Homo sapiens: one gene and its partners. The protein of the gene in region 3 purifies or fractionates together with the protein of the main gene of each other region. This does not show direct contact. Each region holds a gene or a part of one and is shown on either strand. Other genes may lie near its edges.

Region 1 (3,500 bases), on a different chromosome or scaffold from region 3:
TGACATCCACCAGTGGTACCATCACCAGCCCCAACTGGCCTGACAAGTATCCCAGCAAGAAGGAGTGCACGTGGGCCATCTCCAGCACCCCCGGGCACCGGGTCAAGCTGGTAAGGGGTCCCCTCCCCACTCCTTATGCGGTGTGGCTGCCCCCGGTCAGAGGCACTGCCCAGAGCCACACAGGCTGCAGGCTGAGCCCAGAGGTCTGCCATCCCCAGGAGACCCCAAGTCTGGCCTGGACAGAGGCCCCTTTCCCAGTATAAATTAGGGGCGTCCCTGCCTTCGCCCTATTCCTGGGCCCTCCTTCACTGTCATCCCCAGCTGTGGCTGCTCCCATGGGTATCTGTGAGGCCTAGGTTTGGGGCCCTCATCCTTGCCCCACCTGCCTTCCAGCCAAATTTTTAATCTGTGCTCCTTCCTCATCCCCCTAGACCTTCATGGAGATGGACATCGAGTCCCAGCCTGAGTGTGCCTACGACCACCTAGAGGTGTTCGACGGGCGAGACGCCAAGGCCCCCGTCCTCGGCCGCTTCTGTGGGAGCAAGAAGCCCGAGCCCGTCCTGGCCACAGGCAGCCGCATGTTCCTGCGCTTCTACTCAGATAACTCGGTCCAGCGAAAGGGCTTCCAGGCCTCCCACGCCACAGGTACTGTCCCCGGTTGTGGGAGTGTTCACTGAGCCTGGTCTCCAAGACTGGGGTAGAGTCGGGGGTTTCAATGCGGGTATGAAGGTACAGAGGGACTGAGCCCTGCGACCCAGGGCCAGGGTTGTGGGTGATGCAAACATTGTGTCCTGAGAACCAGGCCTGGGGGGCAGGGATAGGAGGGTGTGGTTAGGGGTTAGGATGGCAGTGATGACGATGGACAGGAGAGGTGAGGGAACTCAGGGACAGAGAGGAAAGCCCCCAGAGGTCCCCCTGAGCGTACGCGGGCCACCGCAGCAGCCCAGCCACACACCAACCCTGAAATATACTCTATTCATTCTCTGATATTTATTTTTTTATTTTTATTTTTATTTATTTTTTATTTTTTGAGATGGAGTCTTGCTCTGTCGCCCAGGCTGGAGTGCAGTGGTTCGATCTTGGTTCACTGCAACCTCCACTTCCTGGGTTCAAGCGATTCCCCTGCCTCAGCCTCCCGTGTAGCTGGGATTACAGGAGCCTGCCACCATGCCCAGCTAATTTTTGTATTTTTAGTAGAGACAGGGTTTCGCCATGTTGGCCAGGCCAGTCTCAAACTCCTGACCTCAGGTGATCCGCCCGCCTTGGCCTCCCAAAGTGCTGAGATTACAGGCGTGAGCCACCGTGCCCAGCCCATTCTCCTGATACTTATTGACATGTAACATGGATGAGGCGGCATCCTAAATGCAGGTCCCAGAAACAGACCAAGCAAAGATCCCAGCCCTTGAGGGGCTTGCTCGGCTTTCACTTGCTTGTTTATTTAGCAGCCATGAACTGAGCTCCGCTCTGCGAGAGGACTAAGGGGCACGTGGCCTGAATCAGGCATGAGCCCTTCACTCCTGCCCCCCACCCCATACTAGGAACTCGCAGTCCAGGAGAGAGACAAGGCAGGCACCGCCCGTGACAGCATGAGCCCAAGCGGGAGCCAGGCAGGAAGAAAGGCACCCCGGCCTAACTGGGCATGTGTTGGTAGAGGCATTCGAGGCAGGGGGAGGTGCCCAGGCAGAGACACAACCCCAGCCCAGCCCAGAGTGTGCCCAGGTGACAGCAGGTCATTTACTTTGGCCGAAGCAATGGGTGTGTGAGGACAGCAGGTTGTGGGAATGATGTGGCTGCAGAGAAAGGCTGGAGTCCAGGGGGATGCCTTGAGTGCCAGACCAAGGATGCCACGAGGGAGCTTTGCAGTCTCCTCCTGGGTCCTAAGCCACCTGTCAGGGCATCCCCAGAGCTGATGGTCCACAGCCTCCCCTCTTCCCCTTCAACTCAGTCCCTGACCCAGCCCCGTCCTTCCCTCTCCCCACCTCCTCTAGCGAGACCTGAGTGCCAGGTGCACAAAAGCCAGAGGGCCTGGGGAGGAGGGTGGCCCCATGCACTGTCCTCTGCCCTTCCCAGCACAGGGTCACAAACCGGAGGCCCGGAACTCCATCTGGCCCTCAGACCTGCTATGTTTGGCCCACACTGTGTTTTTTTTAAAAATGTGAGCCAACACTTAAAAGTTAGGAGTTTTCACATAAAACCCAGATGTACGGCTTCTCTCTTGAAAATGGAAGCTGTGGCGACACTGGGCCCACATTCTTCCATGACAGCCATCAGCTGGAGAAAATGAGCAATGCCCTCTTTAGACAAAGTGTGTGGTGCCTCGTGCCACCGCTCCATGCTGTCTTCCTCTCGGTGAGCCTCACTGCCTGTTCCCCTCAGCCTAGGGCCAAGGTCCCTCTATTTAGAGATGGGGCAGCACAGCAATGTTCTGGGCCAGGCCCCCACCCACCCATCACTGGCCTCGTGGCCTTCACCCAGGCCTCCATCCTGCCGTGAGGGCACGCCATGGCATAGTGTGCCATGGGGCCTGGCACCTGCGGTGCTCAGGGCTGGTTGGCCCCTCTTGTCCCCTACAGAGTGCGGGGGCCAGGTACGGGCAGACGTGAAGACCAAGGACCTTTACTCCCACGCCCAGTTTGGCGACAACAACTACCCTGGGGGTGTGGACTGTGAGTGGGTCATTGTGGCCGAGGAAGGCTACGGCGTGGAGCTCGTGTTCCAGACCTTTGAGGTGGAGGAGGAGACCGACTGCGGCTATGACTACATGGAGCTCTTCGACGGCTACGACAGCACAGCCCCCAGGCTGGGGCGCTACTGTGGCTCAGGGGTGAGGCCCCCACCCCTCGCCCTCCTGGCCCCATGCCCCACGCCCCACACTGTCCTCCACCCTTCTCAGCCCAGTCTCCAAGACCTAGCGCCCACACAGGCCCCGGAAGTTGAGTGCAGCACGCGTGTGGCCCTGTGTGGGAGCCCAGAAGCCCAGCCTTGTTGGGGCTACTCAGAGACACTGCCCCATCCCCGACGTAGGAAACCAAGTCCTTTCTGGGCAACCTAGAAGTTCCTGCGGCCTCTGACCCAGGCCTGCCTCAGAACCAGTTGGCCACGGCCTGGAGCGGATGGAGCTTCCTCTGTCCCTCCTTTCCTTACCCCTCCCCCAAGGCAGCCCACCAGGGCCTGGAATGGGGGGCAGAGGTTGGCACCAGAGCCGGGGACAGGGCGCCTGAGCGGAGTGGCCCTCACCAGTCCTTTTGCCGGAGGCATAAACACTCTTGTCATTTCCTCTACCAGTTTCTCCTCCTGATGAAAGGCCAGCTTGTCCCAAAGCTCTTGCTGCTGCTGTCCCAGTGGCCCCTGGGCACTGCTTCTTGGTCCATAAAATGGCACGTTAAGAGTCAATGAGCAAAAGTAGGCTTGATGGGCTTTTCCCTAAGGACATGGGCTAGCCTCGTGGGGAGGATTTATTTTCCTCCCTGTAAGAGCTTGCAGCTGCCTCTTCTTCTTTT
Region 2 (3,500 bases), on a different chromosome or scaffold from region 3:
CGCTGCACCCACTAACTCGTCATCTAGCATTAGGTATATCTCCCAGTGCTATCCCTGCCCCCTCCCCCCACCCCACAACAGTCCCCATAAACATGTGCTTTAAAGTAAATCTAATTTAATCTGTGTTACTTACAGGTATTTAAGCTGCATGCGAGGAAATGAAGATGTCTTGATTTCTGATATTATATTTGAGCTGAGGTCTAAACTCTCCAGAGCAGGGTAAAACTGGAGTGCCTGTGCATTTATTTCTGGGATTATATTATGGACTCTGTAAAACAAAGATTATAATGAAGCTGCTGCCACTGATCCACCCCAGGCCACAAAAATGTTAATTAGAATCAACAATATATGTGCTTTAAAAAAAAAATGTATACTTTTCATAATTTAAGTAAAAAACCTGAAAACTTACTAACTTACAATGAAAGTAGAGTAATATTAGATGTAGGTTCTCCAAAATACGGGATTTCTGTTAGTTCATTGTAATTCATTTTCCTAGGCAAGAGGAAAAACAGATTTAAATGTTTAGTGAGGGAAATATTACCTCTTGGATTCTACCTTCTGGCTAACACATATTCTTTAGAATAGGTGCCAAATTTGAAAAAGAATATGACTCAGAATGAGTTAGACGAAAATAAAAATGTATTTATTGAGAAATTAGAGGTTTTAATGAGAAATGTATTTTCTTTCTTTTTTTTTTCTTTTTTTTTTGAAACAGAGTTTCATTCTTTTTGCCCAGGCTGGAGTGCAATGGTGCAATCTTGGCTCACTGCAACCTCTGCCTCCTGGGTTCAAGTGATTCTCCTACCTCAGTCTCCTGAGTATCTGGGATTACAGGCATGCACCACCACGCCCGGCTAATTTTGTATTTTTAGTAGAGACAGGTTTCACCATGTTGGCCAAGCTGATCTCAAACTCCTGACCTCAGGTGATCTGCCCACCTTGGCCTCCCAAAGTACTGGGATTACCGGCGTAAGCCACCATGCCTGGCCAAGAAATGTATTTTCATAGTGTTGATCTACTATTGATATTAATATCAGAAAGGTTATGAAGTATTTTGCACATTAAATATTGTTAGTTCAAGCAAAGTTCTTTGAATAAGTTGGGTTTATGGCAGCTAATTTGAGTCCTTAAAGAAGGCATAATCAGTCCATCCAGATCTCTCTTTCTCTAAATATATATAAACACACAACACACAAATGTATATATATTTTTTCTAAAGCTATACAAATGTTAGAGAGTGTTACTTGAGACCACAGATGAAATTTATCAGCCCACCCAGAGATGGAACCTATGACTAATTTTACAGATAACATAACATGTTGCATCTGATCCCAGCAGCCCTTTAAACAGTTTGTCTCAAATGTTTTAGTAGCAAATCTAATACAATCACATTTCATTAACCTGGTTTTTAGTCACTGAACAACCTCAACAATCTAGAACACAGAAAAGAAACCAGAAGTAAAGACCTTCAGGAAACCAACCAAAGTTACAAAGTCCATGCAATAAAGCTCATGCACTTCCCACTGAAGCATTTTCAGGCCTTTCCTCAGTGCCTACTCTTTCAGCTAACAAACTTGTCAACTGTGTACTCATCCACAACGTATTAGAAGCAGTGAATCTGGGGCCAGGAGGAGAGAATGCAGAGACAATGAGCATGAAGAAGTTATCCCTGTTAGCAAAGAATTAAAAAGGAAAGTAAATCTCAGGGTTCTGATGGTGTTAATTGTAGAGGCAAATAGGCCTATATACCTTAACGGTTGTGCCTCTAGGAATGTAACAATGCAAAAACTAATATTAATAATATCTTAGAAAACTCCCTCCAAAATTACATAATACATCTCAGTATTAAAGGAAAAACTTTAGTTAAGAGAAAAACTTAATTCTATCAATCATTACATTCTCATATGATATCAAGAATACTCTATTTCATATAAATCTACTTTAGACATGATGCTCCCAATCTTAGATAACATGTCAAGACATTTAAAAAGGTTATACAACAGAGTTTCACTGGCTGAAAACTTGGCCAAAATCAAAACACATTTACTCTGAAGAGGCGTAAATCTTACTTTTAGCCCCAGGAAGGTAGAATATTTCCCCCACAGCCTGCAACTTGAAATCACCAACCCAATGCCAAGACAGTCTGATAATAACAAAGCCAAAGAAAACATTTTAGGTTTTCAAATAATTTCTTTTAACTAATTTTTTCCTTCAATTTTTTTATGGCATCTCTGGATTAAACATCCCACAAATCACAATTTATTAAGTTCCCTCAGGAATTTAACATAACTTTAAATAAATAAAAATAACTTACACTTCCTGTAATGTTTGTGATTCCAAGCTGATGTTCCAGTTAGACAACCGATTATGACTGAAATCCCTGAAAGAGGACAAAATATCATTCTTAGTTTAGTCCTGGAAAGTAGACCTAAAGAAAAAAAAAGAAACTAAATAGAAATACAAAAAGTCCTCTTGGCCAGGTACAGTGGCTCATGCCTGTAATCCTGGCACTTGGGGAGGCTGAGGCAGGCAGATCACCTGAGGTCAGAAGTTCAAGACTCACCTGGCAAACACCATCTCTACTAAAAATACAAATATTTGCCAGGTGTGGCAGATCACCTGAGGTCAGGAGTTCAAGAATCACCTGGTGAAACCCCATCTCTACTAAAAATACAAATATCATCCAGGTGTGGTGGCACACGCCTGTAATCCCAGCTACTCAGGAGGCTGAGGCAGGAGAATTACTTGAACCCGGGAGGCAGAGGTTGCAGTGAGCCAAGTTCACGTCACTGTACTCCAGCGTAGGTGACAGAGCAAGATTCTGTCTCAAAAAAAAAAAAAATTTTTTTGTTTTCTTTTTGAGACGGAGTCTCGCTCTGTCGCCCAGGCTGGAGTACAGTGGCGCAATCTCGGCTCACTGCAAGCTCCGCCTCCCGGGTTCACGCCATTCTCCTGCCTCAGCCTCCCTAGTAGCTGGGACTACAGGCGCCCGCCACCACGCCCGGCTAATTTTTTTGTATTTTTAGTAGAGACGGGGTTTCACCATGTTAGCCAGGATGGTCTCGATCTCCTGACCTCGTGATCTGCCCATCTCAGCCTCTCAAAATGCTGGGTATACAGGCGTGAGACACCACACCCAGCCAAAAAAATTTTTTTAATAAAAAAAAAAAGTCCTCTTAAATGTCAATTTGAGTAGTATAGACAAGAATGTTTATAAAGGATGAATAAAAATGTATCTGAATTTCAAAATAGCTATTTTACTTTACGTGTGTGTATTTATATATGTGTGTGTAGCTTCTGAGTTTGGGAATATATTCACATGGTCCAATTATCAAAAAGTGTAAAAAGTCTCCCACTTTTGTTTCCAGCCACCCAATTCCCCTTCCCAGTAACAACAAATGAAAATATGCCATTTATTGTGCAGACTTCTGGATATTTTATGCATGTACAGCAAATTTTTACAGAAATGACACAACAATTTACACATTTTGCCCCTTGCT
Region 3 (3,500 bases):
AAGGTCCTAGTGAATCCAAAACCTTAATGCAGGTGTTCTAACTGTGGGGCCCCTGCTCTGAACTCCTGGGCTACATCAACTGCCAATGCCACTGAGGGTCAGAAACCCCTTCTGAGTAGCTGGTTGTGGTGGCAGTGGGAGGGTGGGGTTTCTCAGGTTGCACTGCCACGTTCCCCATTGATCTGGACTGAACCGCCCCCCACCAGACCCTTACCCTGTGGGGTTGCTGTGCTGGCACAAGAAGAGCAGAAGGAGGTTGCATCTGGAAGCCCACAGCAAGCTCTCCATGTGTGCGGCAGGCTGAGACCTGACTACCCTCATCCTGGAGATTTCAGTCCAGTGAGCCTCCTCCCACAGAAGGGACCTGGGACCTCAGACAGACCAGAACTACATGGATACGCTCTGTGGCTGAAACTGACAGCAATGCCAAATGGGATTTCTTACGTGGAAAATCTGGTTGGAGATTTTGGCAGAGGTCCGGAAATCCCAGGCAATAATGGTGCGGTCAGCTGAGTCCCGGGTGGAAGCGTCTGTGCTGCTCAGGAACTCGGAGCCTTCCCGGAGGAACAGGATGTCCAAGGTCTGCTGGATGGTCGCCTTGTAGCTTCTCATCACCTGCAAGAGCGGACACCGGTCATGCTGGCAGGCCTGGCAGCACGGACAGGCGCCTATGCAGGGAAGGCCAAGGACCCAGGGGGCAGGCAGGTTTAGTGAAGTTTATGCTGGGCCACACACACCCAGGCTGAGCAGCACCCACAAGCCATATATGGAATCATGGACCCTCCTGCCCCATGCCCAGTCCAGTGTCTGTCAGCTTCTCAGCCCCCCTGCTCTATTGCCACATGGGTCCAGAGAGGCATCCCTATCACCCCTTGAGAGCAGCAGGATCCCAGGGAAAGCGCAAAGGGAAGGGCCTTGACTCGCCAAGGGCACCTCGAGAGCATATTGACATCCATCAACACTGGGGTCATGCTTTGAGTGGGTCCTGCTTCTGAAGACGTCACATAATTCACAGCTTGCAAAGTCCCAGATTGTTGTCCCAGAGGAGCCACAGTAATGCAGGAGCAAGTGTGCTTGGGGACAGACCATAAAGCCAGAATCACAGGACATATTTTAGCTTTAACGACACTTTGTATTGTTTTAGCATCATCACCGATACTTCACAGTCTGCTGTCTCATAAACTGACTTTATTAAGTATTGAGCAGTTGTTTTGCTTTCTTAGAGGATTTTATCACATTCAGCTTCTGCTCTCAAGTATCCAGCTCTGGTGAGGGGATGGAGAAGGGTCCCAGTACCAGGACCAGCAAGTAGCTCCACTTAACAAACTCACAGAGGACAGGACTTTAATGACAATATGGAAATAACATGCTGGGCACCCACGCGCAGCCATGGAAGCGCAGCAAGGTCTCAAGTTGGTCGCAGGGGCCGGCCGGTCCCTTTACCAGTTCCTGGGCCGCCACCATGTGGCTGCAGCATAAACAGTTCAGTCCCTGGGCCCCGCCAGCTCAAAATGAGCCACCTTGACTTTTTAATTGGAGTTCATACCTTTCAAATTTTGCAGACATATTTTCTGTCATCCTCCTTAAAATGTATACATCAAATTCACATTAAATGTGTCACTCCATAATTTCAGTTTAGGTTAGAGGAGGAGGAGGTTGAGGCCCATTCTCTGGATGAGGTTCACTGAGGCCCAGGAAGAGGTACGGATTTGCTCAAGGTCACAGGGCCAGGGCATGGTGGAGCCTCTTCCGACCTCCACGGCTTCCCTGGGACCCACGGTTCATTCTCCTGCTGGTCAATTCCTGCCTCTGTAATTCCTGGGGGAGGGTAGGCAACAGATGACCGCTCTTCTCTGAGCCTCTTCCAAAGCAACCCTCAACCAGGGAGATTTCAGAGTGGGCCCCCTGAAGCCTAAAGAATGATCCAGGGGTGGAAAAAAAAAGCCTTCTGAATGCAGAACAGGGAGACAAGCTGCCCCTCACGGCACGGCTGCCTGCCTTCCTCCACGCACTGGATTCTGCATGCCTGTGCCTGCTCTATCCTCCCACATGGCCTTGATATCACAGCCCCCACCAGCCTCAACACTTTGATCCCTAAGAGGCTGACCCAGGGAAAGGATGAGGAAGATGACGGCCCTCCCTGCCACTCGCTGAGTGCCCGTTAGGTGCTGGGCCTTGGCTGGGGGGTTCACATAAGTTATCTCATGACAAGAGCCCCATAGGTAGCTTCTCTCGGTGGGCATGAAGTCTCAGAGACAGGCAACTTGCCCAGGAGCCAAGAACTACCTACATGCCCCTGCCAACACACCACCTGCCTCCCAAGACAAACTTTTTGAGGAGAACCAAAACAGTTGTTCCGTACATTTTCTGAGAATGGATGGAAATGGCCCAATTCATTAGGGTGTCATAAAAGTGAATGGCTGGGAAACAAGCCGTGTTATGGGCGATCCCTGCCAATAATGTGGCTGCAAGTGGAAGGCTGGCCTTTGAAGTGATCGCCACCGAACATGATTTACTCGCCTTCACAACTGCTCATGCCCCAGGAAAGAGCAAAGGAGCCATTTGTGTGTCTAGCTGGTGGGTTTTATGGCAACCTTAATTACACCAACAGCTGGCATGGGACGCTGCTACCCGAGCCTAACGAGCTGGATCCAAAAGGGAGTCTCACTCAGACTCTTCTGGCAACTGCGGGCCCCTGGTAGAGATGCAGGGACATGGTCTTGGGGAAAGCAGAAGATCGATCATGACACATGCAGGGGTTATGTCCCTACAATCTGCCCACCACTCGGCCCACCAGCAAACCTGGGGGATGCTGGGCCGCTGCTGACTCGTCCAGAGCAGCCTTGGGTTCCTGCCACTTCCAGAGTGCACGGGGTTGGGGGTGGTCACTGGGCTCCAATCTTGGCCCACTACAGATTTACTATGTGCCTGGGGAAGGTTCGTTCCCTTCCTAGGTCTAGTTTTTGAGTCATCAACACGAGGGCCCCAACCACACCTCTGAGCCTCTAAGTACTCCTGGTCCTCAGAAAGAAGAAGGACTGGCGGATGCACCCAGCTATCCCTCACCCCATGCTGCCAGTCCTCTGCACCCAGACCTGAAGGACAGGGGGTGGGGAGGCACTGCTCTGGGCTCACACGCAACCCTGTGCTCCCTTAGCTGCCCACATCAGCCACCTGCCTACGCCACAGGACTGTGAGCTCCTGGCACAGACGCCCTGCTGCCCACATTTCTGGGTCACCCTTGGCTAGCACTGGGTCTGCCCCTGCAGGCATCAGTAAGGTGTGTCAAATTGATGCTGGATAAGTGAGTAAATGCATAAATGAATGAGTGAATGAACAAAAGGTCGACTACTTTAAAAGTAGCAATCCAGGGTCCTCCGGCTCCCAGCAACATCCTGGCATGCAGGGCTGAGGCAACACACAAAAGCCTTTGCCACTGGCTCTCCCAGGACCCCCGGGTGAGATGACATTCACTCACAGGTCCTTCCCCTGGCCCTGAT
Region 4 (3,500 bases), on a different chromosome or scaffold from region 3:
ATGGGGGCCAAATCGAGTGGGTCATGACAAGTGTCAGGAAAAAAAGGATTAGAATAGAATACATTAGAAAATAGTGGGTACCATTTGTGTCATATCTCTGTATATAAAGGACATACATTTTTAAATTTCTATCTGAAAGAAAAGTTTCCGTTCACTAGATTGTGATCAATGCAAAATGTATTCTGAGTGCTCGGTGCTGTCAGCAATGCTGAACTTCCCTATGAAAATTCCAATGACATTCTTTACAGAATTAGAAAGAACAATCCTAAACTTTGTATGGAACCACAAGGGACCCTGAATAGCCAAAGCAATCCTAAGCAAAAAGAACAAAGATAGAGGCATAGAAACGGACATATAGACCAATGATCCAGAATAGAGAACCCAGAAATTAACCCGCAGTTTTACAGCCAGCTGATTTTTGACAAAGGTTTCAAGAACCTCTTTGGGAAAAGAGTGATCTCTTCTTCAGTGGACGCTGCTGGGAAGAAGCTGAATGTCCAAGTGCAGAATGAACGGGGCCCTAAACTACCCCTCACCCAGCACAGGGACCAACTCAAAATGGATGAGAGGCCTAAATGCAGGGCCCAAGACAATAAAATTGCTGAAGAGAATATAGGCAAAACGCTTCAGGACATTGGTCTGAGAAAAGATTTTATGAAAAGACCTCGAAAGCATAGGCAACAAAAGCAATAATAAGCAAAGGGAATTGTATCAAACAAACAAGTTTCTGCACAGCAGAGAAAACAACGAACAGAGTGAAATGAAGACAGCCTATGGAATGAGAGAAAATATTTGCAAACTACTCATCCAACAGGGGATTAATATCCAGAATACACATGCAACGGAAACATCTCAACAGCAGAAAACCATCCAACTTAAAAACGGGCAAATGATCAGAACAGACGTTTCTCAAAAGAAGACATACAAAATGCCAGCAGCCATCACTGATCATCAGGGAAATGCAAATCAAAGCCACAGTGAGGTATCAGCTCACCCCAGTTAGGGTGGCTGTTATCAAAAAGATAAAAAATAACAAATGCTAGTGAGGATGCAGAATAAAGGAAACTCTTACACACCGTTGCTGGGGATGTAAACCCGGACAGCCGCTATGGAAAACAGTACGGAAGTCCCTCCACAAACTACAAATCGAACTATTGAATACCATATGGTCCAGTAATCCCACCACTGGGAATCTGTCCAAAGGAAAGGCAATCAGCCTGTGGAAGGGATGCCCGCACCCCATGTTTATCGCAGCACTGGCCACAATAGCCAGGATGTGGAATCAACCCAGGTGTCCAACAACAGAGGATGGATAGAGAAAATGTCATTGGCATGCACCGTGGAATACTATTTAGCCATAAAAAAGAATGAAATCCTGTCACTGGCAGCAACACGGACGGAACTGGGGGACACCGTGTTATGTGAAATAAGCCAGGCACAGCAAGTTAAACACCATATGTTCCACTCATATGTGGAAGCTAAAAAAAGTTGATCTCACAGAAGTAAAAAGTAGAACAGAGGATGCTGCAGACTGGGAAGGGTAGGGGAAGGGAGGAATAGGGAGAGTTTTTTTTTTTTTTTTTTTTTTTGAGACAGTCTCTCTCTTGTCGCCCAGGCTGGAGTGCAATGGTGTGATCTCGGCTCCCTGCAACCTCCACCTCCCGGGTCCAAGCGATTCTCCTGCCTCAGCCTCCCAAGTAGTTGGGATTACAACTGTGTGCCACCATGCTCGGCTAATTTTTTTGTACTTTTAGTAGAAACAGAGTTTCACCATGTTGGCCAGGCTGGTCTTGAACTCCTAACCTCAAGTGATCCACCCACCTTGGCCTCCCAAAGTGCTGGGATTATAGGTGTGAGCCAATGCACCCAGCCAGGAGAGATAGGAGGAATAAGCTCCAGTGTTCTATAGACTGTAGGATGACTAGAGTTAACAATAATACATAGTTTCAAACAGGTAGGACGATATTGCATGTTCTCCACACGGAGAAATGAGCAATGTTTGAGATGATGGTATGTTAATTATTATCCTGCTCTGATCACCATGTATTCTATGTATCAAAACATCAGTATGTATCTCATGAATATGCACAATTATTATTTGTCTATTTAGAAAAATCAGGAAAAAAGAAAAAAAAAGTCGAACAATGATCCACGCCCACTCTCTATTGCACAAGGGAAGGCTGAGATTCAGAAAGGGGAAGGGGCTTGCCCCAGGCTACAGGGCGTCAGTGCCCAGCTGGGCCAGCGCTTCTTCTGCTCCTGGCACCCCCACTTAGTGAGGAGCTCCCAGGCTCTCCAGGGGACTCACCCCTATCTGCCTGTCCCCTGGGGTGGGTGCTGGCCCCTGCGGTCGCTCCTCCCCGCCTGTCTCTGTCCCCTGGGGTGGGTGCTGGCCCCTGCGGTCGCTCCTCCCCACCCGTCTCTGTGGGCTTGTTGCAGTAGACACTCTCCTCTTCCCCAGGCAGCAGGGGGTGTGGGTAGTAAGAACTGCCCAGGCACTGCCACCACCCGCCCACCTGGCCCACGCTGCACCTGCGTGACTCCCACCTGGATCCGCTCCATGCAGTGTTGGGGGGACTTGGCTGACACGCACTGGATCTCTGGCTTGAGCCGCTGCCGGCGGAAGGCCACGGCCATGTCTCCACACTTCTGGATCTCGGGAGTGGAGAGCACACACCAGCGCAGGTAGGGGGGCAGCCCTGGGGTGGGGCAAGCAAGCGGTCACTGCCAGGCCAGTACTGCCATGGAAGAGCATGGAGTCGGACCCAAGGGAAATTCTGGGCCTTTCTCCTGTCAGGTGTGTGGCTGGGATAAGTTATTTAACCATCGGATCCCACTTCCTCACACAGAAAAGGGGCAACTGTGAGGCCTGAGGAAGACCATGGCTGGCGTGCATGTAACTCAGTGTGTGGTACCCACTTCCCTGGCTGGAGGTGGAAGATACATGGGGCCAGGGGGCTAAAGGCAAGAAGCTCACTTGTAGACTACTGCAATAGTCCAGGCGAAAGATGGCACCTGCGCCAGGGCTGTAGCCATGGGGTAGAGGCGGGGAGTAGGAGCGAGAGGCTGTAGAAGAGCTGACAGGATGCCATGGCCGTGGATGGGGGGGCGAGGAGACCCTTCCCAAGACAGATTCTGATGGTCTGCATCCTCCCCCGCTGCGGCCAGGTGGGGCTTCCGAGGTACAACAGGCCATACAGTGGAAGAGATGCCTCCTCCCCAAAGCCCCAGGGGCAGAGGAATGGAAATGACAGGTTCCCGCAGAGGCCTCCCTGGTGAGCGTCTTCCCCCGGCCACTTTCCCAGAGAGCCTCGCCATGCCCGAGGTTGAGCTGGGCTGGAGCTGGCAGCAGTGGGGACAGGTGGACTTACGGTTGGGGTCACAGAGCAGACCCTTCATGGCGTGCAGGTACTCATGGCCCAGCCACGCCTCATAGGTCTGTGTGGCGATGGGCACAAGCTCCGAGGTAGAGTCTTTGAAGAGTAGATCCTTCTGGCCAT

The links.
Region 1: the proteins of WDR25 (region 3) and BMP1 purify together in Homo sapiens (affinity purification with mass spectrometry; one large-scale study listed by BioGRID and IntAct). This does not show direct contact.
Region 2: the proteins of WDR25 (region 3) and LRIG2 purify together in Homo sapiens (affinity purification with mass spectrometry; one large-scale study listed by BioGRID and IntAct). This does not show direct contact.
Region 4: the proteins of WDR25 (region 3) and MELTF purify together in Homo sapiens (affinity purification with mass spectrometry; one large-scale study listed by BioGRID and IntAct). This does not show direct contact.

What each region holds. Positions count from the first base shown.
Region 1 is NC_000008.11:22,206,872-22,210,371, forward strand, and holds part of BMP1 (bone morphogenetic protein 1 isoform 3 precursor), read left to right. Parts: coding exon 1-110; intron 111-431; coding exon 432-645; intron 646-2,573; coding exon 2,574-2,824; intron 2,825-3,500. UniProt on the Homo sapiens protein: Metalloprotease that plays key roles in regulating the formation of the extracellular matrix (ECM) via processing of various precursor proteins into mature functional enzymes or structural proteins.
Region 2 is NC_000001.11:113,090,198-113,093,697, reverse strand, and holds part of LRIG2 (leucine-rich repeats and immunoglobulin-like domains protein 2 isoform 1 precursor), read right to left. Parts: intron 2,381-3,500; coding exon 2,315-2,380; intron 1,670-2,314; exon of another isoform or gene 1,558-1,669; intron 493-1,557; coding exon 418-492; intron 269-417; coding exon 134-268; intron 1-133.
Region 3 is NC_000014.9:100,522,985-100,526,484, reverse strand, and holds part of WDR25 (WD repeat-containing protein 25), read right to left. Parts: intron 616-3,500; coding exon 445-615; intron 1-444.
Region 4 is NC_000003.12:197,012,818-197,016,317, forward strand, and holds part of MELTF (melanotransferrin isoform 1 preproprotein), read right to left. Parts: coding exon 3,372-3,500; intron 2,700-3,371; coding exon 2,548-2,699; intron 1-2,547. UniProt on the Homo sapiens protein: Involved in iron cellular uptake. Seems to be internalized and then recycled back to the cell membrane. Binds a single atom of iron per subunit. Could also bind zinc.